Homo sapiens: one gene and its partners. The protein of the gene in region 4 interacts with the protein of the main gene of each other region in a pairwise test. Each region holds a gene or a part of one and is shown on either strand. Other genes may lie near its edges.

Evidence for each region.
Region 1: the proteins of HOXA1 (region 4) and LGALS13 interact in binary tests that used the Homo sapiens proteins (3 or more experiments, as listed by UniProt).
Region 2: the proteins of HOXA1 (region 4) and HSD3B7 interact in binary tests that used the Homo sapiens proteins (3 or more experiments, as listed by UniProt).
Region 3: the proteins of HOXA1 (region 4) and VWC2L interact in binary tests that used the Homo sapiens proteins (3 or more experiments, as listed by UniProt).

The regions. Positions count from the first base shown.
Region 1 is NC_000019.10:39,597,571-39,605,541, forward strand, and holds the start of LGALS13 (galactoside-binding soluble lectin 13), read left to right. Parts: upstream 1-4,953; 5' UTR 4,954-4,998; coding exon 4,999-5,013; exon of another isoform or gene 5,014-6,346; coding exon of another isoform or gene 6,347-6,454; intron 6,455-7,031; coding exon 7,032-7,108; intron 7,109-7,607; coding exon 7,608-7,818; intron 7,819-7,971. UniProt on the Homo sapiens protein: Binds beta-galactoside and lactose. Strong inducer of T-cell apoptosis. Has hemagglutinating activity towards chicken erythrocytes.
Region 2 is NC_000016.10:30,980,802-30,988,216, forward strand, and holds the start of HSD3B7 (3 beta-hydroxysteroid dehydrogenase type 7), read left to right. Parts: upstream 1-4,405; 5' UTR 4,406-4,496; intron 4,497-4,658; exon of another isoform or gene 4,659-4,851; 5' UTR 4,852-4,857; coding exon 4,858-5,023; intron 5,024-5,247; coding exon 5,248-5,403; intron 5,404-5,621; coding exon 5,622-5,730; intron 5,731-5,803; coding exon 5,804-5,903; intron 5,904-6,038; coding exon 6,039-6,201; intron 6,202-6,966; coding exon 6,967-7,382; 3' UTR 7,383-7,415. Other genes in the region: histone-lysine N-methyltransferase SETD1A, read left to right, coding at 1-48, 260-379, 2,834-2,971, 3,049-3,222. UniProt on the Homo sapiens protein: The 3-beta-HSD enzymatic system plays a crucial role in the biosynthesis of all classes of hormonal steroids. HSD VII is active against four 7-alpha-hydroxylated sterols. Does not metabolize several different C(19/21) steroids as substrates.
Region 3 is NC_000002.12:214,435,038-214,442,056, reverse strand, and holds part of VWC2L (von Willebrand factor C domain-containing protein 2-like isoform 1 precursor), read right to left. Parts: intron 5,429-7,019; coding exon 5,299-5,428; intron 1-5,298.
Region 4 is NC_000007.14:27,092,998-27,100,903, forward strand, and holds the start of HOXA1 (homeobox protein Hox-A1), read right to left. Parts: upstream 3,004-7,906; 5' UTR 2,916-3,003; coding exon 2,264-2,915; intron 1,799-2,263; coding exon 1,443-1,798; 3' UTR 1-1,442. Other genes in the region: HOXA2 (homeobox protein Hox-A2), read right to left, coding at 7,729-7,906. UniProt on the Homo sapiens protein: Sequence-specific transcription factor. Regulates multiple developmental processes including brainstem, inner and outer ear, abducens nerve and cardiovascular development and morphogenesis as well as cognition and behavior.

The DNA of each region.
Region 1 (7,971 bases), on a different chromosome or scaffold from region 4:
AAGCAATACAATTACAGGAGGCAGCTCAGATTGAAGTCCAGCATCTTATCATCCAATTACTCTCAGATGTCCATGAGGAGACTACAAACTGTCAGGTGCACTTTCTCTCAAAATATGCACCAAAGGGATACATATTTGCCCTATACAAATCAATCACACAAGACTGAAACAGACAAAGGAAAATGCAGTTAACACAACTATTTTAGAGGGGCAAAAGATAACAAATGGCACCTTTTGCCTCATAGCACTCTGAGAAGCAAGAGGGGTCACCAGCAGCTCTACTAGAGCCACTTATGAAAATTCAGCCTGGGTTCTCACTCTTGTCGCATCTGCTCAAACCAGCATAGTCTGTTCCGGAAATACTACCTCAATGTGTGCCCCCAGTGTTTCCATAAGTACTTTAAAAACATACATTTCATTAAGTTGGACTAAGAGGTCTTCTTTGAATGGATAACCAAGGCATCCACACAACGAAAGAAACCGTGTTAGCTCTTTGTACATAAATTTAAAATTCAAACAAACAAACAAACAAGTACAGAAAAGAAAATAGACCACAGTCACGGTCCATATCACTGAGGAAACCAACAAGATCTCTTTTTTCATTTTCTCTGGGAACGTTTCCCTGCAGCAATTGGCTTCATCCTCCATTCTTAGCTTCTTGGAACTCCTACCAAGATGGCAGAATGACAGTCCTTTTTCCACTACAAGAGTTTTGATTATCTACTTCATAGTGCATATAGAGAACCATTTAGGAGAAGATAAACAACATATTTCCTAAAAGTCAACGAAGGATGATTGAAGAGAGTCTCATCAAATAGCCTTTTTTCTGCTGGGCCAATCTCAGGCATCATTTTGATCATCGTCATCCTCTCTCCCCAGGTTCATTGCCACAGCTTGTTCAACTCCAACCTTACTCATGGGTATGCCTTTCTCTGTACTGCTTCTTTAACCTAACATCTGGATACCTTGAGGTATCAATGCACAGTGAATTATGCTCTTCATGCCTTTCTTCCTTGTTTCTTTCCAGTATAAAATGAAATTTCCTCCCCTCTCATTGGAAACTCTCAGGTTCTGATTAGGTACACTCTCCTCCTTACACCATCCCTGTCACAGTCCTGGTCAATTCTGTATTTTGATAGTGGATTATAGGCTCCATCACCAGCATGGAATTCATTTGTTGGGGATTTAGGCAATTCTTTCTCTGAGAGGATGAAGACTATCCTGGAATCTATGACTTCCTGAGCAGAACATGAGTTTGATTTCATATCTGCTTGCCTCTGGATGACACCCATTTTATTTGAGTGGCCTACAGAGTCCTACATGCTGGCCTTGCAACACACACAGTGACTCCCATTTCTTGGCTGACATTCACCAGCTCATTTCTGTTCACATGGGCCATTTGTTACACTCATTTTTATCTCAGGTAATACGTTTTGCTCATGGTGGCCAGGATGACATCTCAGACACAAAGAGATGACATAGAATTCAGGAGCCAATGTTTAACAAAGAATTTTTGAATTGCCTCTGGGGACCTACTCAACATCATTTTCATACTCCTCAACCAAAATTCCCTATCTTCTCCCAGCAAATACGGCATGCTCAAAACACAGAAAGTCGTACTTGGACTCTAAAGCTTTCATTCTCAAAGGTATTTAGGCTTTTTAGTTTTTGTTGAAGCCTCCCAAGGAATAAATCTATTTGGTGATAATATTGTCCTTGTCCCTCAAAGCTGTTTCACTTGTGGTGCTGTCCGTGGTGCTGAGCATTGGTGCATTAGGCCCTGTATTTGAAAGTGAGGAGCCAATACGACAGAGTAAGAGAGGAATTTTGTTTTGTTTTCTTTTGTATTTGCTAGACCATAGACAAAACCTCCATGATGACTAAAACAGAAATTCAACTTGGATTTTCAAACCACAATTTCTTCAGTGCCCTCTCTCCTCACTTCTATTTAACATAATATTGGAAGGCCTGACCAGAGCAATCACGCAAGAGAAAAGAAGAAAGGGTATCTAAATACAAAGAGAGGTCAAACCATCCCTGTTTGCAGATGTCATGATTCTATATCTAGAAAACTCCATAGTCTTCACCCGAAAGATCCTTAAGCTGGTAAACCACTTTAGCAAAGTTTCAGGATACAAAATCAATATGCAAAAATCACTAGAACTCCTATATGCCAACAACAGCGACAGGGACAAATCAAGAATGCAATTCCATTCAAATTTGCCATAAAAAGAATAAAACACCTAAAAATACAGCTAATCAGGGAGGTAAAAGATCGTTACAATGAGAATTACAAAACACTACTCAAGGAAACCAGAGATGACACAAAGAAATAGAAAAACATTCCATGCTCATAGATAAGAAAAACCAATTATCATTAAGACAGCCATACTGCCCAAAGAAATTTAGATGCAAGGCTATTTGTCTCAAACTATGAATGACATTCTTCACAGAATTAGAAGAAATATTATTTTAAAATTTAAATGGAACCAAAAAAATGCCAAATAACCGGGGCAATTCTAAGTGAAAAGAACAAAACTGGAGGCATCAAATTACCCAACTTCAAAATATACTACAAGGCTACAGTAACCAAAACAGCATGGTATCGGTATGAAAAGAGACACACAGACCAATGGAACAGAATGGAAAGCCCTAAATAAGGCCACAAACCTACAACCATCTGGTCTTCAACAAAGCTGACCAAACAAGCAATGGAAAAAGGACTCCCTATTCAAGAAATGGTGCTGGGAGAACTGGCTAGCCATATGCAGAAGATTGAAACTGGACCCCTTCTTTACACCATATACAAAAGATAGATTAAAGACTTAAAAGATTAAACCCAAAACTATAAACATCCTGGAAGACAACCTAGACAATACCATGTGGGACATAGGCATGAGAAAAATTTCATGATGAAGATGTCAAAGGCAATTAGGAGAAAAGCAAAAATTGACAAACAGAATCTAATTAAACTAAAGAGCTTCTGTACAGTGAAGGAAACTATCAAGAGAGTAAACAGACAGCCTAAGGAATGGGAGAAAATGTTCTCAAACTATGTATCTGAAGAAGGTCTAATATCCGAGCATTTATAAGAAATTTCAACAACTTCACGAGAAAGAAACAAACAAACCCATAAAAAAGTGGGTAAAGAGCTTGACACAGTGGCTCATGCCTGTAATCCCAGCGCTTTGGGCAACCAAGGCTGGTGGATCACTTGAGCCCAGGAATTTGAGAACAGGCTGGGTAACATGGCAAAAACCCATCTCTACTAAAAATAGAAAAAAAAAATAGCCTAGCATGGAGACATGCACCTGTAGTCCCAGCTACTCAGGAGACTGAGCTTAGAAAAATCACCTGAGCCCCGGAGCCAGAGGTTACAGTGAGCCAAGATGGTGCCACATCACTCCAGCCTGAATGTCAGAGTGAGACCTGTTTTAAAACAACAACAAAAAAGTTGAGCAAAGGACACGAACAGACACTTTTCAAAAGTAAGGATACAGGTGGCCAAAAAACATATAAAAAAGCTCAATATCACTGAACATTAGAGAAATGCAAATCAAAACCACAGTGAGATACCATCTCACACCAGTCAGAATGGCTGTTATTAAAAAGTCAAAAAAGGACAGATGCTTCAAGGTTGTGGAGAAAAGGGAGAACTCACACATTGTTGGTGACAGTGTAAATTAGTTCACCCATTGTGGAAAGCAGTGTGGTGATTCCTCAAAGAGCTAACAATAGATCTACCATTCAACCCAGCAATCCCATCACTGGGTGTATACCCAGAAGAAAAGAAATCATTCTGCCATAAAGACATATGCACATGAATGTTCATTGCAACACTATGCACAATAGCGAAGACACAGAATGAACCCAAATGCCAATCAATGACAGATCGGTTACAGAAAATGTGGTACATGTACACAATGAAATACTATGCAGTCCTAAAAAAGAATGATATTATGTCTTTTGCAGGAACATGGATGGAACTGGAGGCCATTATTCTTAGCAAACTAATGCAGGAACAGAAAACCAAATACTGCATGTTCTCACTTATCAGCGTGAACTAAATGAGGAGGCTCATGGACATCAAGAGGGAAACAACACACACTGGGGCCTCCTTGAGGGTGGAGGATGAAAGGTGGAAGAGGAGAAAAAAAATAACTTTTGAGTACTACACTTAGTAACCAGGTGAAGAAATCATATACACCACAAATCCCATGACACGACTTTATCTGCATATGTACCCCGAACCTAAAATAAAATGAAAGAAAAATCAAATAAAAACAACAATCTCACCTTCCTCCCAGAATCTGCAGGAGAAACAGTGTCTCTGAAACTTTTATTTACATGGACACCAAGAGAAAGGAGAGGGTGTAGCTAGAGCCCAGGTGTGTGACAGTCAGGTGAGAGTGGCCCTTACCTGGCAGAGCCAAGCAGCCTAGTGTGGAATAGGTTCATGCAAGAAATTTCTCTGCTTCTCTCCACAGATCCTCCTGAGGATCAAGGTCAGTGCTCTCCCAGAACGTTCAAAAGCAGAGAGAATCATTACCTTCTAGGGCTAATGTATTTCCCCAAAATCTCCAACTTTTTTCTTTTCAGCCGTTGTACAAATTGGGAAAATGTACACTTTCTGGGTATATTCTGCATAGATGAGAAAAGGCTTGAGAGGCATAAAGGCTGGGCTTTACAACCACTACCGCTCACTCCATCATCTTTATCTATGCATTTCCCTGGTAACCCAATCCACAGCCTGGTAACTCCCCCACTGTCACTTCTGCTGCATTACAGATACAGACCTGCAAATAGCTATGGTTGTGACTGAGTTTCTTCCTAACAACTAAACCTGTCTAAAGCTGCAAGGAAATCTTGCTGGGAGGAGCTTGGAATCTGGAATGAAGCCCGAGGGCAAGGCTGAAGTGGGTCATTTAAATGCTGCAACTCAGAGATTCACTCAGAAGACTGGACTCAATTCTGAAGGTCGCCAAGAAGGAGAGAACAATGTCTTCTTTACCCGTGAGTTGAAAAGGCACAGCCTTCAAAAATTTCGTGTCACACAAACCAAGAAAGAAATGGGAGATTTTATGAGATGAAAATATGAGCATTTTTGCTGTGAATGCTTTACTTAGAGCTATTGAGGTGTGGAATAGAAACCCTGAGGCTATGGTATCTGAGATGCTTGTGGGGATTGCGGTGTGGACCCTGGACCAGTGTAACCTTCGGTGAGTGTGAGGTGGTGTCTGATGAGCATAAACTCTGCGGAGATAATGTGACTTTAAGTGGGAGGTGGATTACCCACCAGGACGAGCAGGTGTGTGAATGGAGAGTAAAGGGGTGAGTCGGCTTTGTTTCCTGTCTATGATGTGAGTATGTGTGTGAGCACAGCCAGACCAGTGCATGAGCATCGTTATGTGCACAGTGAGCAGGTGTGTGTGACGCAGTGAGTGGTGTGGCTCTGTGTGACTGTGAGTGTGTGTGCTGGGATGTGACTGTATGTTGAAGTGGGATCATGCATGTGGCTTTCTTCACATGTGAATGTTTCTCCCCACACAGCAGCACCTCTGATGTGAATCCCATGTGGCTTAACTGGTGGGGATCTTGGGGATTGTGAGTTACCAAGGACTTATTTCAGATCACTTGTGAGAGCAGAATGTATGATCAGTAGATGTCTCTTCCCAGTAAGAGTGGGGAAGAGGAATGCAGACTATGGGGGTGATGGTTCCTCAGGTGGGGTCTGCACAGAGTGACCACTGTCTCTTGCCTCCCAGGCTCAGCTTGCCTGTCCCTAGCCCATCCAGTTCTTCCCACTGTGTGACAGGAGGGTGTGCAGATACTGGTTTGTTAGGGAAGGACATTAGAGGCCGTGATTTCAGAGACTGAATCACACAAAATATCCACTGTAAGCTCTGTCTGAACTGAGACTAAACTTGTTCTACACCCATGAAAGAACAAGTTAAGTCTCAGTTCAGAAGGAGCTTACAGTGGATATTAATCAACCAAGCAGCTGGGTTCACTGGCTTATGGCTATAATCCCACCAATTTTGGAGGCAAAGATGAGAGGATAACGAGGCCAGAAGTTTGAGACCAGTCTGGGTATCAGAGTGAGACCCTTTCTTTAAAAAACTTTAAATATTTGACTGGCAGAGAGGCAGGTACCTTTCTTCCCAGCTATTCAAGAGGGAGCAGATGTGTGAGATTCACTGCAGCCCAGGAGTCTGAGGTTTCAGTGAACCATGATTGCATCCCTGCATGTCAGCCTGGGTGACAGAGCAAGAACCTATCTCAAAAGTACAGAAAAATCATCTCATCTACTTGTAGTCATCATAGAAATCAATCATTCCCTCCAGTTATGTCCCTGACCCACAAGCTTCATTTGTGCAAGTACTGGGGCTGTGCTCTCAGTAGTGTGTGCCCCTTCTTGGAAGGATGTCCATGGCCCTTGATGATAGTGATGCATGTGCATCCCACACACAGGGGTTTCCTGTTCTTTCATCATTTCCCTCTCCCTTTCAACAAGTGTTGTTTCTCACTGGAGTGAATGTTTAAATTCTTACATTTACAAGTCTTGTTTTAATTTTCAGAGTTGAAAATGAAGGCAGGTCAGTCTTTCAAGAGGACTCTCCTGTCCTGTTAGGTCACCCTAAGAGGCCCTACGCATGACAGGGATTAGGGTAACACTTTTACATGTATTAACTCCCTATTACGGAGAACATCCTACAAAGTAGAAATTCCTGATAATCCTCGTTGTCCTAGGGAAAATGAGGGAGAGTTCAAGTAGCAAATCTAAGACTGCACTGCTAGTAAAAGGCAGAATGAGGACTGGAATCCAGGCATCCTGGCTCCTGAACCCTTGCTCTAACTTATGGGTCCGCCATATCTTCAGGAATATGGGGCCCTGAATGCGGTAGGGTTAAAGAGGAGAGTCCACAGAGTCTGCCCTTTCATCTCCAACCTCCTGCACCATGAGAATATGTTACAGGAGGGGAGACTGCACCTGACCCTGCACCTCTCACTTACTCTCAATACTCTGGCAGGTGCCATACAAACTGCCTGTGTCTTTGTCTGTTGGTTCCTGCGTGATAATCAAAGGGACACCAATCCACTCTTTTATGTGAGTACTCCATGGTCCAATGGAGGGGTTGGAGAAGAAGGGAGAATATTTGCGAAGATTTGACCTTACATGTGGGTGATGTGGAAATGTCTAGTTGGCAGAATGGAGGCCCCATGCAGGTGCAGGTCTTGGAGACCCTCCAGCACCAGGCATGAGACCCACAGCAACTGCATGTGGGCCAGCCATGGGGCCTACAGGAGGAGAACACTCAGTGGGTTGGGGCTGTGGCTCTTTATCAGGGGGCATAGAATTTTCGGGAATGAACAAGTCATAGGCCCAGGTCAGTGACTGTGGCTCAGTTTTCATCTGGGGATGAGGAGCACAGAATCTCCCTGCCTGGGGGCATGAGGAGCTGAAGCATCCCCACAGGGACCTGGCCATCAGTATTATCTGGGAGACTTTTTCCCTAGGTAAATGGGGGAAGGGATTTGTGTGTGTGTCGAGTGTGTGTCTGCGCAAGGGAGGGACCTGCCCAACATTCTGCGTGCTTCACCCTCAGCAATGACCCACAGCTGCAGGTGGATTTCTACACTGACATGGATGAGGATTCAGATATTGCCTTCCGTTTCCGAGTGCACTTTGGCAATCATGTGGTCATGAACAGGCGTGAGTTTGGGATATGGATGTTGGAGGAGACAACAGACTACGTGCCCTTTGAGGATGGCAAACAATTTGAGCTGTGCATCTACGTACATTACAATGAGTATGAGGTGAGCATCCCAGGAGCTCCCAGCACCCAGGCTCTGTGGGCTCCCAAAACAGGAGGCAGCTCTCATTGATCTGGCCTCAGTAGTCCGTCAGGGTCCATCTCCCATAACTACTCCTGCCCCTGGTTTTCATCACAGAGCACCCCCTGCTTGCAC
Region 2 (7,415 bases), on a different chromosome or scaffold from region 4:
ACCTCCGCCATCATGGACAGTGACCTGCTGAAACTCAACCAGCTCAAGGTGAGGCTGGGCTGCAGGAGGGGCTGGGTGGGGTGGGGTGGGGCAGGAAGGGGCAGAGGCCAGGGGACCACCCAGCAGGCTCCTGTGGTTCCCTCGGGTGGAGTTGGGGGGTAAGCAGCCAGAACACCCTCTGCCCAGGAAGTCTGTGGGAAGAGTGAGGGTCTGGGGTGTGGGAGGTGTCTGGCAGTTGAGTCTCCCTTCTGCCCCCCAGTTCCGGAAGAAGAAGCTCCGATTTGGCCGGAGCCGGATCCACGAGTGGGGTCTGTTTGCCATGGAACCCATTGCTGCTGACGAGATGGTCATCGAATACGTGGGTCAGAACATCCGTCAGGTGAGGCTGCACTCCCAGCCCCGCCCCGGCTTCTGATGCAACAAGACAGCATGGGGGCTCACACACATGCTGTTTGTCCGGTTAAAGCCTTGCACACTCCCTAACCCCGGTACCTAGCCAGTGAGACCAGCCTCCCTCCGGTGTGGTCAGCAGGTGTCAGTGGTCCAGCAGGAGGCATGGCTGATGGCACTGCTCCCTTTCTTTTTTTGTTTTGAGACATAGTCTCTCTCTGTTGCCAGGCTGTAGTGCAGTGGTGCGATCTTGGCACACTGCAACCTCTGCCTCCTGGGTTCAAGCGATTCTCCTGCCTCAGCCTCCCGAGTAGCTGGGACTACAGGCGTGTGCCACCATGCCCAGCTAATTTTTGTATTTTTAGTAGAAATGGGGTTTCACCATGTTGGCCAGGATGGTCTTGATCTCCTGATCTTGTGTTCTGCCTGCCTTGGCCACTCACAAGTGCTGGGATTAACAGGCGTGAGCCATCGCATCCAGCCAAGCGCTGCTCCCTTTCAAAGGGCCTGGGAAGCGGGAGGACAGGCACTGAACAAGTATCCACACAGAAGGATGGTGTTCCAGCCTGAGCAATATTGCCAGACCCCGTTTCTGCAAAAAATACAAAAGCTAGCCGGGCGTGGGGGTACATGGCTGTGGTCCCAGCTACCCAGGAGGCTGAGGTGGGAGGATCACTCGAGACCACGAGGTGGAGGCTGCTGTGAGCCAAGATTGCACCACTGCACTCCAGCCTGGGCAACAGGGTGAGACCGTGTCTCTAGAAAAAACAAAAGCCAAAAGGATGGCATTTGGTATTAACAAGATCTTAACAAGATCTGGGGAGTTGGGCTATGGGAACACACACCTGGGGGGCCTAAGACCTTCCAGAGACCATGGTGCTTGAGTAAAGCTGAAAGGAGCTCGCAGGCCCAGACAAGTGGTAGTGTGTGTGCGCTTGGTTGCGAGACACCATGTGCACAAACCTGGAGGCACGGTCGTCTTGTGAGAGTGTGGAGGTCAGCTTGGCTCATTAGAAACCAGGGCCATGGCCAGGCGCGGTGGCTCATGCCTGTAATCCGAGCACTTTGGGAGGCTGAGGCAGGCAGATCACCTGAGGTCAGGAGTTCGAGACCAGCCTGGCCAGCATGCTAAAACCCCGTCTCTACTAAAAATACAAAAATTAGCCAGGCGTGGTGGCAGGCGCCTGTAATCCCAGCTACTAGGGAGGCTGAGGCAGGAGAATCGCTTGGACCTGGGAGGCAGAGGTTGCAGTGAGCCAAGATCGCGCCATTGCACTCCAGCCTGGGCGACAGAGCAAGACTCCGTCTCAAAAAAAAAAAAAAGAAAAGAAAAAACAGGGTCAGTGGCAGCGACGTGTGGCTGGAGGGAACAGAGAGCCCAGACCGCACGGGCTTGGGAGCCTGTGAATCCACTTGGGCCTGTGGTGAGAGAGGAGGAAAGTCCCGGAGCTTTCTTCAGGAGAGGGTCCTTCCGCAGGAGAGGGTCCTTCCGCAGGAGAGGGCCCCATGGCTAGTGAGCTCCATGTCTAGGCTGACACCAGTATCCAGGCAAAGGCAAGGGTGGCCCGACCCAAGCAGTGGCAGCAGAGGTGACAGAGAGGAGGCTTTGGGTGCAAGGTGGTTGGCTGGGCTCAGCAGTGAGAGGGTGAGGGGGACGGGAGGCCCTCTCTCGGTGCTGCTCTTAGCTGCTGGGAGTATGATGGGAGGGCCAGTGAGATGGGTGTGAGGAGGAAGAACAAATATATGGTCAAGATGAGCTCCAGTCTGGACATGTGGGGTTGCAATGCCCCAGGGACATCTAGGGGATGACGCCCAGCAGCTCCACTGAGGTGGCTTTTGGCTGGAAATGGAAGTTTGGGAGGAGTCCCCACCACATAGCTGGCGGCTGAGGCTCTGGAAGGGAGTGAGGTCACCCGAGGAGGGCGTGCAGAGGCTCCTCACTGTCTTCTGGGAAGTAAGGGTTGCTCCTCACACGGAGGTGCGGGGCCTGACATGGGCGGCCTGCCATTTGCATTAGCCGGTGGCAGCCAACAGGTGCCTGTTTTGGAGAGAGGTCCAGGGAGGAGAGATGAGCAGGGTGCCGTTGGTGACATGGCCAGTCATTTCAGGAGCTGCCCCAACCCCAGACTTGCCCCAGCAGTCCGGGACCCCACTGTGACCAGGCAGATGCTCGAAGGAGTCAGTGGCTCTCTTACCCAGTGCAGATTTCCCTGGAGTTCCCTGCGGGTGACTTAGAATGGCCACCAGAGGCTTAGGATGCTGCCCCAAAGAGGGAGGGCTCCTGGAAGCAGAGTCGAGAGAGTCAGTGCCGGGTTAGCGGGAGCTGGAGGCAGAGCTGCAGCTCCAGGCCTGGTGGGCGTGGACCTGGGGTGCTGGCTGGCAGGCGTGCTCAGGGGCAGGAAGTGGGGGACTCTTCCCTGACCATCGCATCTCACCCTGGCAGATGGTGGCCGACATGCGGGAGAAGCGCTACGTGCAGGAGGGCATTGGCAGCAGCTACCTGTTCCGGGTGGACCACGACACCATCATCGATGCCACCAAGTGTGGCAACCTGGCCAGATTCATCAACCACTGCTGCACGGTGCGCCAGGGGCCAGCCGGGGCAGGAGTTGGGGGTCGGTGGGGGTGGCCACGGCTCACACGCCCTTCCATCCGCAGCCTAACTGCTACGCCAAGGTCATCACCATCGAGTCCCAGAAGAAGATCGTGATCTACTCCAAGCAGCCCATTGGCGTGGACGAGGAGATCACCTACGACTACAAGTTCCCACTGGAAGACAACAAGATCCCGTGTCTGTGTGGCACAGAGAGCTGCCGGGGCTCCCTAAACTGAGGTGGGGCAGGATGGGTGCCCACACCCCTATTTATTCCCCCTGGTGCCCTGAGCTCCCAGCACCCCCCCAGCCTTAGTGGGCTCAGCAGGGCCCACATGCCCCCATCTCCAAGCGTGGGGTTGGGGGCCCCAAGCCCAGCGAGGGAGCCTCAGTCCCTGGAGGCAGCTTCTGCCTCTCCTGTCACCCCTGCCCACCACCCCCTGATTGTTTTTCTTTGCGGAGAAGAAGCTGTAAATGTTTTGTAGCAGCCAGCAGCTGTTTCCTGTGGAAACCTGGGGTGCCGGCCTGTACAGATTCTGTCCTGGGGGGCTACACAGTCCTCTTGCTTTGTGTTAATGGGGACTTCCCCTTACGCCCTGCGTGTACCCCTCCCCAGTTTAGGGGTCTCTGGGGCAGTGGCCATGTTCTCCCCCTGGGGGGGCTCTGCACCCCCAGTCCTGGGGACTCCGTGCCTGGAACCCTGCCTCATCTGTTCCTGCCAGACCCTGAGGGTCACCCTTCCACCCTGGTGTCACTCCCCGGCTCAGCCAGGCCAGGATGGCGGGGTGGGTCCCTTTTGCTGGGCTGGACTGTACATATGTTAATAGCGCAAACCCGACGCCACATTTTTATAATTGTGATTAAACTTTATTGTACAAAAGTGTTTGGTCGGTGTATTTGGGCAGGAGCGAGGGGTTGGGGGTAGAGGGCACGGAGGGTTGTGCAAGTTGAAGAGAGGGAAAAGTGGGTACCTGAAGTGTGGGGCAGGTAAAGGGGCCTTCAGGCAAGAGCCCAGACCTGCAGAGACAGTCCGAGACTGTCTCGGACCCCCTGACAGGCTGCAGCAGCCGCACCCGCACCAGGAATACCCCACCAGTGCCCGCCAGGGTGGTGCCAAGGTCAGGCCTCCCCTTCCTACAATCACAGCTGCAGCTGGACCTCCGGCCTCCTGGGAAGCCCAGCAGGAGGGAAGGCCTGAGGTCACACTGTGGGATGAGGTCACCGCTGGCTCCACCCACAGCCCCAGACCCCTTCAGCCCACTCTGCAAGTTCGAGCTTCATCCCCACCAAGTTCTCCGCTGGACCCAGATGCCAGTGGAGCACAGAGCGGCCGCCAGGGGGCGCCTTGGGGCAAGAGTGGTGGGGGTTGTGGCTGGGCGGGTCTCTGTTCCTGGAATGGGGCAGGAGGGAGAAGGAGGAGCCAGCGGAAGGACGGTGTGCGGGCCGGCCAGCCCTGGACGAAAGAAGAGGGCCCCTCCAGGCCAGTCTGGGCACCCTGGGATAGCGGCTGCAGGTAGGCAGAGGCGCTGCCAGTGCCCAGGTGGCCTTTCCCTCCATCCGGCCCTTCCCACCTTCCTATAACCTTCCCTCCACCTCCCTCAACTCCTGGCCTCCCCACCCTTTTACTGCCTTCAAATCTCTCTCCCTAAACCCTGACCCCTTCCTGCACCCCAAGCCCGCCCCTCTCTCCGTAACTCAGCCATCAGCAGGGGCAGACGGCAGGTGGCCTGGTTGCTGCAGCTCCCAGGATCAGCTCTGCCCTCCCCGCAAACGCCAGCCTCGTCACCGCTCCAGGGCACCTCCAGCAGTAACAGGTGGTTGCAGCAGGTGGCAGCCAGCCCCTGGATGAGCCAAGGTCTCTTCCCCAGCCAGGCATGGCCGACTCTGCACAGGCCCAGAAGCTGGTGTACCTGGTCACAGGGGGCTGTGGCTTCCTGGGAGAGCACGTGGTGCGAATGCTGCTGCAGCGGGAGCCCCGGCTCGGGGAGCTGCGGGTCTTTGACCAACACCTGGGTCCCTGGCTGGAGGAGCTGAAGACAGGTTCTTGTTGGGGGAGCTTGTGGTGGAGAGGGTGTGGACGCTTCCCCAACCCTTCCCAAGCTGGGATCCCCACCCCTGCAGTGGAACAGATGATGCTGGTTTCTGTCCACATGGATGGGTCGAGTGAGTCACATTGGGAACGTGACTCCAGGGTGGAAGATGAACCCAGCCTCTGGCCTCTGGCCCCAGCTCTGACATGGCCTGTGTCCTCCAACCCCGGCCAGGGCCTGTGAGGGTGACTGCCATCCAGGGGGACGTGACCCAGGCCCATGAGGTGGCAGCAGCTGTGGCCGGAGCCCATGTGGTCATCCACACGGCTGGGCTGGTAGACGTGTTTGGCAGGGCCAGTCCCAAGACCATCCATGAGGTCAACGTGCAGGGTGAGGAGCTCTGGACACTCCTGGCCATCTTGCCTGTTTGTTCCCCACTCTGTCTTTGGCCTTGACCTCCGGTGACTCCCCTGGGACAAGTTGTCCTATTGACAGCCCTGCCCCCGCCTCCCCTGACCTGTCATGGTTTTCCCTGGACCTGGGATGGGGAGGAGGAAGATGCAGAGAGGGAAGAAGCTGCAGCTTGGATACGCCTCCTCCTCTGCCAGGTACCCGGAACGTGATCGAGGCTTGTGTGCAGACCGGAACACGGTTCCTGGTCTACACCAGCAGCATGGAAGTTGTGGGGCCTAACACCAAAGGTCACCCCTTCTACAGGTGAGTGGCAGGCCCTCTTGTCCTCTAAGAGCCCATTTCCCTCAGCATTGAGTCTTCCTTCTCCTCCCACCAGGGGCAACGAAGACACCCCATACGAAGCAGTGCACAGGCACCCCTATCCTTGCAGCAAGGCCCTGGCCGAGTGGCTGGTCCTGGAGGCCAACGGGAGGAAGGTGAGCCCAGAAAAAGGAGGCGCAGAGATGGGGCTCCTGCCCTGCACACCCCCTTACCCTGCCAGCCCAAGGAGGCCGGGGCCGAGAGCAAGCTGTCGGGTCCCAGGTCTCAGCAGTACCTGCCTTTGCCACCAGGTCCGTGGGGGGCTGCCCCTGGTGACGTGTGCCCTTCGTCCCACGGGCATCTACGGTGAAGGCCACCAGATCATGAGGGACTTCTACCGCCAGGGCCTGCGCCTGGGAGGTTGGCTCTTCCGGGCCATCCCGGCCTCTGTGGAGCATGGCCGGGTCTATGTGGGTGAGGACTGGGCTAGGCAGGGGGAGGCTGAGAATATGGCAGGAGGACTTGCTCTAGAAGGGGGCAGGACCCACATGGCCCTGGGAGAGAAGTGTGGACTCTGGCTAGAAAAATATGGTCTATACATGGGCCAAGGTAGACTGTGATTATGTCTCCACAGCCTGCAGAGAATACAGGATCCATGCAAGTTGGGACATTAAAAAGTGTATCATAGGCTACAGAGAAGATTGCAGCTATGGGAGCAGCCATTCCCCAGGAGAGGAGAGGAGAGGGACAGTGTGTACACAGCACTAAAAGGGCTGGGTTCAGTGGCTCGCATCTATAATCCCAGCACTTTAGGAGGCTGAGGCGGGAGGATGGCCTGAGCCCAGGAGTTGGAGGCTGCAGTGAGCTATGACCGCACCACTGCACTCCAGCCTGGATGACAGAGACAGACCCTGTCTCTAAAACTTTTTTTAAAGGAAGTAGCATCTACACAGGGAATAAGGTCACCTGCCACTCCATCCTGCAGTCCCCAAGCCTCTCAGGGCCCACCACGCAGGTCCTGGTTTCTCTATCCTCTCCCCAGGTTCTTTGCAGATGCAGGCTGGCCCAGGAGAGCAAGTGACTACCAGGGCGAGGGAGAAGGCAGCCTTTCCCAGGCTGCTGTGGGGATGTGGGCGGCAACTACCTGGGCCCAAAGAGGGGGTGGCCCAGGAGAGCAGCCTCGATGTGGTGTTGCAAGGGCACTCAGGGGTGTGTCCGCCTCTCTTCCGCCACCGGCAGGCAATGTTGCCTGGATGCACGTGCTGGCAGCCCGGGAGCTGGAGCAGCGGGCAACCCTGATGGGCGGCCAGGTATACTTCTGCTACGATGGATCACCCTACAGGAGCTACGAGGATTTCAACATGGAGTTCCTGGGCCCCTGCGGACTGCGGCTGGTGGGCGCCCGCCCATTGCTGCCCTACTGGCTGCTGGTGTTCCTGGCTGCCCTCAATGCCCTGCTGCAGTGGCTGCTGCGGCCACTGGTGCTCTACGCACCCCTGCTGAACCCCTACACGCTGGCCGTGGCCAACACCACCTTCACCGTCAGCACCGACAAGGCTCAGCGCCATTTCGGCTATGAGCCCCTGTTCTCGTGGGAGGATAGCCGGACCCGTACCATTCTCTGGGTACAGGCCGCTACGGGTTCAGCCCAGTGACGGTGGGGCTGGGGCCTGGAGGCCCAGATACAG
Region 3 (7,019 bases), on a different chromosome or scaffold from region 4:
ACCTATAATCCCAGCTACTTGGGAGGCTGAGGCAGGACAATCACTTGAACCCAGGATGCGGAGGTTGCAGTGAGCTGAGATTGTGCCACTGCACTCCAGCCTGAGTGACAGAACTAGACTTCATCTCAAAAAAAAAAAAAGGTATCTTATTTAAAATAAAAATCTTATTTTATTATAAGATACATATTTTATTTTAAATTATATAACATAAAATGTACACATTAGATATGTAGTATACATTATATTACATACAAAATGATATGTATTCTTCTAAACAGTTTTTGCTTTATTTTACATGGCAGTAAAAAATATCAGTAGTCTTTTAAAAGGCTGTTATATATTTAATTATCCCAGTGAAGAATTATTAGGTTTTCTCCCAACTTTTCACTCTCAAAATGGGGTGAAAATTTTGTATGTGAATGTGGGAAAAAGTACAAAAGGTGAAACTGCTGACTTTGAGGGATACAAACATTTTGAAAGAAAGTGTCTTTTAAAAAGTTTATAACATTTTCTCCACTCTTTCTTAACTCTTCTCAATACTTTTGCTGATATGAGGCACCATCAATCCCACATTATCATCAATAAAAAATTGACATCCCATTGTTTTAATTTCTATCTCCTTATCCATTTGGTGATTATTATATATTTTTTATATATTTATTAGACAATTCATTTTCTTATGTAAATTTCCTTTATTTGCTCTTTGCCCATTTCCTTCCCTGCAGAATCGTTTTCCTTTCTTATTTATTTTAAGGAGCTCTTTGTGTATTAGATATATTAACAATTTTATTTGGCAAATATGTTCTCCCAAGGACCTTTAGAAGGTATTGGATGCCTGTGAAGTCCCTTCTCTTTCTTATTGTGCATGGCTCATCCCCTCTGTTGTCCTCTTGTTTTCTATTAATATTTGCCCCTTTGCCTAGTTTATTTTCTGCCCATTTGCATCACTACTAAACTAGAAGAGAGTGAGGGACATAGAATTAAATATTTGAACAGGGCTTGTGACAACTTTAATTTAGTTGAAAGGAACTGAAAACTTAATGTGTGTACAGGATTTTGTGGGAGCGTTCTGTCTTTTCAAATTTTTCATGGGGTAACATTTCCTTCTGAGCCTTGAATAATGACTGACTGTGTATTCCAGTGAAAACACAGAACTCACTGACAAACCAGCTAATGAAATGTAAAAAATGCAGTCTGTCATTTGGATGCTCCAATGATCAAATGTTTTGATAACTGACTACATATTTTATTTTTTAATGCAGATGTTCAGCATTCTATAAATATGGATTCTTAATGACTTGGGACAAAAATATTAGAATGTATGAACAACTGAAGAATGGAATGAGTGGCTGCAGAGCAAGAGTTTGAAATTAATATTAATTCACATACAAAAATAAACGATAGGTATTTTTAGCTATATATATAAAATATATACATATAGCCACATTACTAGTCAAATTTATGGTCAGTTTCCAATGTTTGAAATATTGCCGTGACATTCCAAACCATAATGTTTTCTTTAAACAGATGCTGTGCTAAATTATTTTTTTCATACCATAAAAACAAAAATCCATAAAGAGTGCTCATTAATTCACATGGAAAGGCCTGGGGCTGAAAGATAGGTCAAAGTAACACAATCTCAGGGAAAGAAAAACAGTCTGAAAATGTCATATTTTTCAGGAAGGCATTTGTATTGCTAGTTCTTGGAGCTGTGTAAAGGAAAGAGAAATAAATGCTTAATAATATTTTTAGAAACAATAAATTCCTATGTCAATCCCCCCAATTCTCACCAAATAAAAATTACTCTCATCTTTTTCCTCCTATTATGTGTCTTACATAGACTCTGTCCAGTCATTCATATCTTTCCTTAGTGTTTTTATTTTATTCAGGCTAAATCGATAGACTGTTCTTGGTACTGAACTAATTTTAATGTGAATAGATTACTGTTGGGTATAGTCATTGACAACCATTGAAAATCTTGTTTATGGTAATCACTGAGACAAGAAAATTTAAAACTCTCTTCTTTACACAATTAAATTCCTGGAAATATATGTTCTTAAACTTATTCTTAAAATTATATTATCAAGAATAAAGACATGGTACCATTGTTTAGGGAGTAGATTACCCTGCACTTTATAATATTAAAATATTTATTTCCAAAGATAATTGTTTATTTTCATTGGTAAACAGTTTTACGGAAAAACTACATACATATTGTTATCTTTCTTTGTTTTGTTTGCTCTTAAATAATATCAAAACAAATATTTCTATATTAGCTTAATGTTGAGTTATAAGGTTAGGTGTGATGGATTCCATCACATTCAAAAGTTTATATCTTTAATATAAAGTTTAAATCATATTTTAAAAGTTTTATAACTTTAATGCCTCATGCTTTTGGCAAGTTGTAATTCAGGAAGGCAGAAAAATCAATTTTAATATGAAAAACCAAAGTATTTGACAGCCAAGATAATAAGCATTTATGCAAACTGAAAATTACTTGCCCGCCAAAATAACCATTTATGAAGATTTAAGAAAATGTAGAAAATGTTATGACTGTTTATAGGTTAGAATTAGTTGCATCTACCTTGAATCCATAGTATATATTTTTAGCTTATTGTTGCTTTTTAAAAATCTATGACATAGCAACTATATTTAAAATAGTTTATACTATAATGGGCATATTTATTATGGTTATAGTTAATAACCATATATAATGAGATAGACTTAAATCATGTGTTGGAAACTTAAGTTATTCCAGTTATACTGTCATAATAAACATTTATTTTTCCTCCATGTCTTCTATATATCATTCATCTGTTTCTGTTTTCTGGGCTAGGCTTAGAATGAGAGCCAACAAAACCTGGGACTCAGTCTGTCTTCTCAATAAAATTATTGGTACCACTGGTGGTCATACGTGTCTTCATTGGTTCTTGATATACTCTTCTTTGGCAATGATTATACTTTAGTTTTGGGGCATATGTGACTAACTAGCGGCATTTAATAACAAAAAGATAACATCTCATAATGTTACATTACAATCAGTCCTTCCACTAATTTAAATTCAGATTCATTTCCCTTATTTAAGAAAAGAAAATTTGTTTGGAAGTACCAAGAGGGAACAGAAGTGGCCATTTCATAGTGCTTCATGATTTAAAAAATATCAGAAAACTTAACATACCTTGTGTACTTAGCATCTGTTTATCAGAAATACTAGTGGTTACTAATTAATTAACTGATTGAACAAGTAAAGTCTATTCATTATACACTTTTGTAAAAAGAGGATTTCATTTGGAGAAAAATTTCTACTCTGACATGGTTGAGAGAAATAGGATAATCTTGGGCGACATCAAATTAAGTGTAACTAGTTTGTAGTGGCTGATTTAACATATGACATAGACATTAACTCTGGGTATATTATGGGCTTTAGTGTAGGGTCGCTAGAAGGATGTGATAGATGCATGTGTAAAAACTGTTTTAAACGTATGCTTTACATGTTCTAATTCTATGAATATGCTGGATGTGTCTAGACAAGAAATTTTAACTATAACCATAATTGTGAGACAAAGCTAAAAGTAAGACAAAGCTAACCAGAGCCATGTGGGGAAGGCAAGAGCCTCAAGGACTTGTTTAGACAGTTGCTTCCAGGGGAAAAAAAGAAAAAAAAAAGTGCAGTCTTCAGTCCAAGACCTGTCAATCCAGTTTTTAAAGATTGATTAGGTAGTTGAGTTTTTCTTCCTTTTATCCTTGGAGAAAATGAAAAATAATACTTTCTCTTCTACTTTAGACTCACCATTCATATATTTTATGACAGTTTGGTCTCACCTGAGCCTTTCTTCTCTAGGACAAATTATGCTAACTCTTTCTGTCTGTCCTCATAGGTCCTATTTTTCAACCACTAAATCCTCTTATTGTTCTTTCTTGTATCTTTTCCAGTTTCTTCAGTCCCTTTAAAATTTTAAAGTCTTAAATTTAATATATTTGCATATATTTATTTTTGATGAGTTAGAACTTCAGGAGCGTTATTTCTTTCTGCTAAGTGAGAGAGTGGTCACTATGACAGGTAGATTGGAGAAAGGAGATAAGAAGAAAAAGAGGAGCGAGATGAGCAACTTAATATTCAAGTTAATCGATTTATATGATCAGAAATAGCAAAACGTGTATCTGGAAAATGTCACAAAGGTTTTTAATAAGTCCTTTGGAAGATACCAAAACACAAAAAAATTATTATCAGAAATAACCAGAGCTACTTAAAAAATCTTTTAAAAATATTTTTTTATCTTTTATAAAAGGTAAAAGATATCTTTATGCTTATTTTTACTAATTACCCTTCTGTAAAGGAAAAGATTAGTAGGTGAGCTCCAAATTCAGAGCAAAAAATAATAGAGAAAGATGGCCATTGCCAACTCAAGAAAAGGCATAGGAATTCAGCATAAGAGTGAGCTTATCTTAATTAGGGGCTAGAACCACTTTTTCCAGCAGATATTAATGACAGAACATTTGTGGAATGTGGCCTAGTAAAGAATTATTTTTTCCTTTTTGGTAGTACATGGTCATAAGGCAAAGTGCGCTATTGGCTTTGTTGATGCGCTATCTTGGGTTTATAGCATTGCATTGTCTTCTCTGCAGCATCATGTTGATTTTGGGTGATTAGGATATTATAGTTGGTTCAACCTCTCCATTCCATGAGGGACAAAAAGGAACCTATAATGTCGTAAATAAAACAAGTTGCTCTCTATAGCAGTTACTGTGAGAGCACAGTTCCACTGTAATAAAAACCTACAATAAAGGCCCTAAACTTTTTAATCTTTATTACTTCAATTTAAGTGCAATGCTAATTTTATTTAATATTTCTTGAATTTTATATTTAACTTTAAACCTAAGGTCTTATCTACATTCAAAACAAAATACCTGGCATTTACCCTACCCTATATCCTGGGTCATACACCACAAAATGGGGTGAACTGCTTCATTGGCTCTACAAAAGAGAGGAATGCAGTCACTACAAAAGGATGGTACTGTGTTCTTTCCAATATACTCCTTTTAAATCAACACGAAATAATAGGGATCACAACGAAGTCAGCTTACAACAGCTTTAATTCCCCAGATGGAAAGCTGCACAATAAACCCACTGCAGGTTTATTTTCACTTTAAGATGGGATAAAAATATACATCCGCCATGCCCATATTGAAAAGCCACAGGCAGATCTTAGAGGGGTCTTGCATTGAATGGTATGCAGTAGTGAAATATTTGTATTTTGTGCGAACCCCTCTTCAAAAGCTAATGCAGTGTGGTCTTACCATTTTTGCAGACAGGACAACATTGTTCTGGTTCATAGACTGGGTTGACACACTCAGGAACTGCGCAGTCTGCTACAACACAGTGAACTTCATTGCTGGGCTCACAGCGACACCATTCACATGGAGAGGGCTAGGAACAAATCTAAAATTAGCCCCTTTTCTCCTATAACTTAATGCTTGCACATTCATATGCTGTCAGAAGACAAAACATCAGTGCTTATTATATTGGCTTTACTGTATTAATTCCATTTACCATGTCTACGATCATTCTCCCTTGGTGGAAGGCAAGTTAGACACCCAAGTCACAGTGGATTACAACCTGCACTCAGGTTGCTGTGAACAAGAAAAGCACCCGTGTATGACTTTTCCTATATCTTATGTTCCTACTTTCCAGAGAAATATTTGCATAACTAATATGTCATCTCCTGGTTTGTTTTCCAGATGTACTGATTGCTCTGACCTCCTCTCGTAAACAGGCATTCTACTGGAACGTGTAAGATAATTTTTGCCATCTGTCATTTTCTTCTTCTTGAGAAAGGAGGAGAATTACTGAGAAACAAGAAAATGGTAAGTGGACATCTGTACCCTTTGTATGAACTCTTTTTCAAGCCAACTTAGACTCTAAATGGCATTTTTTTTTTCAATGTGAATATTAGAGAAGATTGCATTTGGGAACCAAACATCCAGGTACTGCCTCTTGAAAGATGTAGTGAATACCTTTCATCTTGCCTGCTTGCTTTTATGAATGAACAAATCGACTGGCCTAAAAAGCCACTATTTAAGAGTCAAAAACTCTAAAAATGGAACTAAAAATGATAATTAAGAGAAAAAAATTAAACATCAGAAAAGAACATTTGTCTTTGCAGTACTTACCGGCCGAGAGTGTTTAGAATTTTCTATTTCCTTTCTAGAAACTGCCTATGGCACAAATAATCTAAAGCAGGGGCCACCCTCTGACTTTCTCATCCTTTGTAAGTTCTAGCTCTACTTTTCTCATGGAACAGCAGTTTAAAATTCTGGAATGAAAATTTGGTGGTGTCAGAAGTCATACAATGTCCACATTTCTCAAATCAAGCCATTTGTTCTTAGAAAGCTCTGCCTCCAATCTGAAGCCACAGATTCTTACCTGCAAACTGTGCTAATTAAAGCCCTCTTCCCTTGTTTCAGTGACTACTGTCCAAAACCCTTGTCAGCTCTTATTTCTTCCCTGGATCTGACAATCTGTGTAATATCAGTGCTTCTCAACTCAGACAGTCTATAGTGGAAACCCTTCAACTAATTATTTTAAAAATTCATTTTGTCTTTGCTTTTTGCTTGGAGAATGACAGCCTAACTTTAAATTACTTTGCTTTCAAATTTAGTATGAACAAAACAATTAGCCATGGGATCTGTGGTAAAGTATGGCTATTTGTTAACATGATCAATGGCATTTTTGAAGGGTACAGTTAAACTCTTTACCATGTGGTGAGTTGTGTTTAAACATTTCAGAGAAATCTATTGCATTCTCAAGGGTTGAGATTTTTCTGATGCTTTTCTGCTAAATAATCTCAGCAAATTAAGAAAAAGATTAGAACGTACAGTACATTATTTAATGGAGAAAATTAGCAAATAAGAGATGGAAACTCTTGTTGCTCTTTTGCTCCTTATTTTGCAAACCTCATCGTGATATCTAAAATTCCCAAGCAGACTTGTCGAACTTTCCCCTTTCCTTGGTTAATTAC
Region 4 (7,906 bases):
GCTTTTGAAGGGAGTTCTGTTTATATATACGTCAACATCCAGTTGGAGGTGAAAAGGTTAGCACTTGACCCAGGAAGTATCCATGTTTGTTTCAAAAATAAATCTGCTTCATAAATTTCTTCATCAGTCTTTTTTTCCATTATGAGCTTTGATTATAATAAAGGAGCTGTTATTAACTTTTATTCAAGAAAAGGCCCATCTCTTTGAAAATATTTACCACCCTTCTCCCTTTCCCCTCATGAAATGTGCCAACTTCATAGGAATTAACAAATTGTAGCCCAGCCAAATACACGGATGCTTAAGCATACCTGAAACTTGAGTATATTTATTTATTACAGACATCCTAAGACCCGTAAACTCTGCTCTGGATCATATCACTCCAGGATCTCAGAGCTGTTCATGATTGTACAGGAAATGGGGAATATCATAGGCTCACAAAGGATAACTGATAGAACTCAGTGTGGTACTTTGGGGACATCAAACATTGTGCGACATGCAAAAGACTATTCACGAATAACACAAAATATACATTCATTGTGCCATCCATCACATTAACAATTGAGCTGAAAATACATTATATCCAGCTAAGATAACTGTGGAAGGAAGAAATTGGTTTGAATAATACTTTTAGGTTCTGAATAACCCAGCACAAATTTTAAACAGAGGGTGGCCCGAGAAGAAAGGGGTAGAGATTGGGAAAGACTTAGCACAGGAAGCCGGGTTTCTGAAGTTTGTGCTCTGCAGGGCTTCTTAACTGTAAGAACAAATCAAGGCTACCCTCTGAGGCATCTGATTGGGTTTAAATGAGGGAATTTTTTCTTTCACCTATAAAATTGTACCAGTTTAGAGAGTTTGCCCACCCTGTTTTAGTAACCTAAACATTTCTAGAAAATCTGTATAAAGATAAATCTCTTAGGACAAAGTATTTACAACCAGCAAACTCACACACATGAAAATGACTTAAATTAAGGGATGAATTAATTGTGTAAACATATAGTGCATCTCTTCTTCCTGAGCTCCTGGACTCGCCTTTCGCTATATCCTACTTTCAAGGACAAGGGAGGGGAGAGCTGTACATATAGTTAGATAAAAGATGAGAAGATTCCTTCTGGCATGTTTCTGTTGGCAAAGGGAACTATTTTCCAAAAGGTCATCTGAAAGGAACAGTAGGTTCTGTGAATTCTCCTAAAAGCAGGAGGGATGTTAAGGCCCACCAGAAAATGTATGCTGGCACCCAATCTGGATGAAGGTGTTAACCCCGCACCAAGTCTCTGGTCCAGAATTATCTGCAAATATATTATCCTGGCCAGGAGCTCCCCAGATAGGATTAGAAAGGAAGAAAGAGACTGTAAATGGAAAGAAAGATAAGCTAAGCATGTGCTTTGGGTAAGAAGTCCCAGCCCAAGGAGATGCCTGGGCTGTTGTCTGGGGCTGGAGCCGCCTCAGTGGGAGGTAGTCAGAGTGTCTGAGGTAGAAGACCCCGGGGAAGGAACGCAGGGCGAAGAGCTGGACTTCTCTGAGGATTCCTCGGCCTTCTCGTCGTTTCCTGGCGGGGTGGCCGGAGAGATGGGCAAGAGACCCTCCTTCTCACGTTTCTTTTGCTTCATTCGGCGGTTCTGGAACCAGATCTTCACTTGGGTCTCGTTGAGCTGCAGGGATGCAGCGATCTCCACCCTGCGGGCGCGCGTCAGGTACTTGTTGAAGTGGAACTCCTTCTCCAGTTCCGTGAGCTGCTTGGTAGTGAAGTTGGTGCGCACCGCGTTGGGTTGACCCAGGTAGCCGTACTCTCCAACTTTCCCTGGGGCAAAGTGGGAAGCCATGAGACGGAAATGTAAAAATTTTTAAATCGACTTGAGATTCCCCACACGCTTCATGGCAACACTCAGGTAAAGAAAAGATCAAGAACTCAGCACAAATCGGGCTGTGGAGGGTGAGTGATGAGGTGTAAAGTGTTAACCTGATGTAAACCATTAGCATGGTCAGACCGGTGATTAATGGAGCCTCAAGATATTAACAGAACACTACCGTCACAATAACCACCCCCACATACTTCCTATTTCCCAAATGTATAAAATCCTTGAAAACACACCAATCCCTGAGACTTCTTTGCCCCAACACCTCTGGGCACCCTCTCCATGCACTACAACACTAGTCTGATACAAAAGCCTTTTAAAAAAAAGATCATTATTAATTTCCTTGGAAATTAAGCATACCAGCTCCTTCCAGAATAATCAAGGAGCATCCACCAACCAGCAGGACTGACCTGTTTTGGGAGGGTTTCTTTTGACTTTCATCCAGTCAAAAGTCTGCGCTGGAGAAGATGTCTCCGATGCGGGGGAGCGACAGGCTTCTTGGTGGCTGGCGTGGAGAGGGGACAAGGAGTTATTATACGTAGCCAGGGCCAGGCTCTGGTGCTCCTGTCCATATGAGTGGTGAATGTATTGAGGCGAGCCCACCGCGCCCCCAGCATAACCCTGGTGGTGGTGGTGATGCTGGACCATGGGAGATGAGAGATTTCCAGAGTAAACAGCGGGAGCGCACTGGGGGTACCCACCACTTACGTCTGCTTCCTGATTTAACGCGTAGGGGCTGTAAGGCGCACTGAAGTTCTGTGAGCCATAGCTTGGACCACAACTTGAGTGGGAGTAGGACACCCCCAGGTTCCCGGAAGTCTGGTAGGTAGCCGGCTGGGGGTGGCGATGGTGGTGGTGGTGGTGGTGGTGGGGCGAACCGATCTGCACCCCCCTGCCCACTAGGAAGCGGTCGTCGCCGCCGCAACTGTTGGCGCTGACCGCGCACGACTGGAAAGTTGTAATCCTATGGTCCGAGGGGTAGGCTCGGGCTGAGCAGGTCCCCGAGTCGCCACTGCTAAGTATGGGGTATTCCAGGAAGGAGTTCATTCTTGCATTGTCCATCTGTCACTGAGTGACCTGGTCCTGCGAAGCCCGGCGTGACTGTGCCAACTTTCTCACTTCCTCCATGGGGCCGGAGAAGAAAAATGATATGAATGTACAGTGCGCAAGAGGGGGGGCGGGAGGGCGGAGGACGCTGGAGGAGGGGCACGTGACGGTGTCAGCCAATGGCTGAGCCTCCTGCAAAAGTTTGCCGGCTTCCGCAGTGATGGATCACCGTTTTAGTGGCATTTAAATCCCCGGCGCTCCGCCGTCTAGGTGACGCGCAGTCGCCCCCCCAGGCAGCCTAGGCGGCGGCAGCTGCTGCGGCGACTGCAAAGGCCGATTTGGAGTGCTGGAGCGAAGAAGAGCAAAAGCTGCGTTCTGCGCGCGCCCGACTCCGCTGCCCGCCCCGCCAGGCCTCCGGGAGGTGGGGGCTGGGAGGCGTCCCCCGCTCCCGCCCCCTCCCCACCGTTCAATGAAAGATGAACTGGCGAGAGGTGAGAAGGGAAGAGGGCTCCCGGCTCTCTCGGGGCGGGAATCAGTGGGCCAGAGCTCGCCGGGTGGCCGCAAGTACGCCGGCCCAGCCCGCAGCGCGCCCAGCCGGAAGGCGGGGAATCCGGCTGACACCGCGCCCCGGGTTCCCAGGCCACCTCCTCTGTTCTGAGGCTGGGCTGGGAGACCGTGGGGCTGTGAGGAGCGCATAGAACCGTGGTGGAGGGCGAGGCTGGGCCACCGGCTCTTCAAGCTCGGAATGGAGGGGGAAGAGCGCAGAGGGCTGGCTGGGAGGAACTCGGGTGGGCGTGAAGGAGACGAGGGCAAGAAAAGAAACTTCCCTTCTTCCAGGAGGGTCTTCGAAACCCTCTCCCCACAGCCCCTCTCGTCATTAGCATGGCAATGAGGAGTTTCTGTAATTCGACTTGGAGGGGCGGATGAGCCCTGGAAACTCAGAGCTCGCCGGAAAAGGCCGGGGGCGGCCGGGCTCTTCTTCCCCACCTTCCCTCTCTCGTCGCTCTCCGCCCCTTTCTCTTTCCCACTCAGTTTTGCACCGGGAGCCCTCCGGGATGCGGAGCTACTCGACCGCCGGATTTTTAGGGGTAGGAGGCGGGGGAGAGAGATGACGCTGGCGGACGTGGCCAGCGCGGGGGCCGGGCGGTGCGCTGCAGGCCATCTGCCGGCGCCCTGAGACCCAGGAGCCTCCGCGCTCCCGCGTGGGCCTCACAGGGCCGGTCCACAGCTCCAACATAGTAGCTGAACTCCCTTCGTTGCGTTCCTCTTTTTCTGGAGGGGAATGTTAGAAGAGAGAGAGAGCTTCCTTTTATAACCTTCCTCATTCTGCTGCACGTCTAGAGTGGGTGTGGGGGCTGGCAGGTGGGAGGGGCGGTGGACAAATGGCTGATGGTGGACGGGACACTTTACCCCAACGACACCTCCTCCCCTTTCCAACTGGCTGTGTAGTTGCTTATGAGAACCTTCAAGTCCTTCCCTAGAGAGACACATGCAAATCTGAGCCTCATCCCAGGCCAGGGGTCCTGTTCCTCATCACCCTACTTCCCTGAGGCTGCTGAGGTCGTTAAATTGTTGTTTACTATTAGGTTTCACGTCAACCCTGGGCTTGTAGAGAGAAAAAGCCAAACGGAGACCAAGAATTGATGCAGTCTTGGGTAGGAGAAATCGAGAGCTTGTCCAGGAAGCTTTGCTGTATAAATTATAAGCAATGCTGTATAAATTTTACTCCAACCATGTGTACAATGTTGGAATCAGATGAAATTTATAGTGAATGAATGTATGTGGGTTTGGGGTTTCCACTCCTCTTCAGCCTTTCCTCCCGTTAGAACAAGGAAGGTTTTTTTTTTTTCAAGGAAGGTACATTTCAAATATGTTAGTCACCCTTTCAGTCTTCTGTATTCTGTTCTCCACGTACCGAAGTTCCCCCAAACCTGTCCTCTCAAGAGAAAAAACCCATGCTGACTCTGGACTCCCTCAGTAACAATGAAACATTCTCCCCAAACATTTCCTTTCAGAATAGTATTTGTGACTTTGATCCATCCCAAGCATGGTTAAGAGGGAGCACGGGCAGGAAAGGCCCACTTTCTGGGGTTGGGCAGCCACCCCTGCCCCAGTTTCGGCTCCTGGGAATCCTCCGACTGGAGAAGGGGAAAGGCAAGGCAGTCCTCCTGGAGGCGGCTTCCTTGGGAGCACCAGCTTCCAGCGGCGGGGAGAGAAGGAGCTCCTGTGGGAGAGGGGGCAGGATGTGAGTAGGTCGGTGCTGGCTATGCGAGCAATCCTCCCTCCAAGCCTGAGCAAGTCGGTACATTTTCCCCCGCTGCCTCATTCCTGTACCTTGGTTGCCCTCCTCAGCCTGGGTTTGCAGGACCCCCTCGGCTGCAGGGCGCCTGCCACAAAGCCGACCCCGGCAGGAGCCACTCTCTCTGCTAGTTCGCTGCCTCGGCCCTGCTCTCCCTCAGCCTCTCTTCTTCTCTCCTGGCCTCTTTTCTGGGGCATCCTGGGTGGAGTGTTTTTCTTGGGATCACGAGCTTGCACTCGCACACAGGCCCGCAGACACACAGGCCCGGCGGCCGCCCTTCTCCGCTTACTGTTCCCGGCTCCCCGCAGGCCGGGTGCTCGCAGCCGGGCTGGCTATGCCTCGCCTGGCAGCCCAGAGCGCCGCTCCCCGGGAACAGCACACAAAGGCAGCCTCCCCTGGCCTCTAGCCCTTAGGCTTCTGTAGCTCAGTTCTTTCCCCACACCCCTCCCCCAAGAAATTCTGGGGGCCGTTCCACCGAGTAGGAGATCCTTGGCCCTCTAGGCAAGTAGGTCAGCGCCCCAAGACTGGAGCTGGTCTCTTTCAACGCCTTGGGAGACTGGGTGAAAGGCGAGCTTGGTTACGCTTAAAATGATCGCCTACAAGCGGTTCTCTTGGCTCAAAACGCCTCTTTCAGGGCTCTTATGCTAGAAAGGAAAGGAATAAGGAGGAGATAAAATGACGCCGAGGCCCTGAACTGTTCATGGCATCCGCGGCTCAGCCAAGCTGTTGTTTTAAAAGAGCAATAAAAATGAATTATGACTAAACGCCTTCTAACTTAATGCTTTCGGACGGGGATCCCCGGCAAATAACGTAAGAGGATTTTTATTTGTGCATGTGTTCCTGCAATTGATCTCTTTGATGACATTCTCATTCATAGAAAGCGTTTGATTTATGAGCGTAGGACGAATCGCATCCAGGAGCTGCGCAGCCCTGGCCGCTGCCGGGACGCCCTGCTCCGCGCTGAGCTTGGGGCCAGAAACCAGCCATAGTCCCCACACTCCGCCGCCGCAGCTGAGATTTAGCGGAGGAAGGGGCGAGGGAAGGTAGGGAGCAAACCTATGAAGAAACATCGCGTTGTCATTGGAACTTCCAAGCCTTTGCTGTTAAGAGCCAGGTTCTTAAATCAACCCGCCCCACACACATGTTGCTTACATGCTGCGTTTTCTCACGGTAAGTAAGTAGGCATCAGAAGAGAGCTCAGAAAGGGAAAAATAAACATGGGGAGACCTAACAAGGGAGGGGGGAAAAGCAACAACCCAGTGACACACCCTAGATCACATTTTATTGATATTTCATTTAAAGTGCTTTTCTCTCTCTCTAGAACCTGCGTTAATTTATAACCTAGGGTGTAGAAACACACCATTTTAAATCTCAACTTGCTAACCTGACTTCGAAGCATTAACGATCTATTATTAGCAATGTAAACAGGTTTAAGAATGAAATATTGATTTTTCTGACCCTGAAAAAAAAAAAAAAATCCTAGAGTGACTGAACCAGAGGATTGGAAAGAACATTTTCTAGGGTGCATTTTCCAGATAGTAATCACTGTTTTGTTTTATTTTTGTTTTTCTCTATCTTTTAGGTCTGTTTTGCCTGAACCCATCAACAGCTGGGAGATTAATCAACCACACTGAAAATGTGGAGGGATTTATGGGGGAGGGGGTTGAAATGTGGGTGTTTGAAACAAAAGTGTATAAACAAATGAATTGTTGATAACTTAGTTATTGACCTGGAGACTGGTAGCTTATTAAAGAAACTCCGTGTTACTCATTCCTGGAGTTGGGGGTTTCTGTAGGCACTTTATTTCTCCACTTTCAAGAGCTTGGGCTTGGCCCAAATCTTAGACTGTCCAATTCTGCCTCTATTACCAATTTAAATCTATGGCTTGAACCTGTGCACTGAAAATCAAATCCTTTAAAAAGAAAGAGGAGAAGAAGAAGCAAAAAAGAAAGAAAAAACACTTATTAGAAGCCCTAGTCATTTTTTGGCTTTCTGTTTTGTTGCTGTCCATTGAAGACTTTGAACATGCCGCCTTAATAAATGTATTAAAATTGAAAAAAGAGGATAAATTGTGACGAATTTTATTTACGAAGTTAGACTAAAAGAAGAAAAAGAACCCGTTATGAGCCTTGAAAAAAGAGGGGGAGAAAAATAAGCTACTTATAGCAAAGGAGAATTTATTCTACAAAAAATATGCATGACAATGCATCCCAATGTAATACAAAAATAAAAAGAAAGTGAAGATACAATTATATGATCACTTTCTTGCAGGCCTCATACTGCTCTCAGGAATCACATAAAGGGTTGTTGAGTTAGGTTTAAAACAACTAAAACTCCAAAATAATCTGTAAAAGATGGCTCTGTTTGAAACTGGGTCAGGGAATCACTAAACAGAAAATCCTCAACACTTAAAGGAGGGAAGGGGTAGGTCAAGAAGAAAATAAAAAATAAACTCCCAAATAAAAGAAGGCAAAACCACCTGGTCAAAGGAGTTTTTGTTTGGTGATGCTTTGTTTTGCTTTAATGTTTTTAGTAATTCAGATGCTGCAAGTCGATTGTGGTGAGTGTGTCTGTAAAAAAGTCTAAGCTGTCAGCTGAAATATCTACGGGACTGTCGAGGGAACCTGGCAAACTGGGTGAAACTGCATCTGAAAGCTGCAGGCAGGAATCTGTGGAGAAAACGCTAAAGTCCTGCAAAGAGGGGACC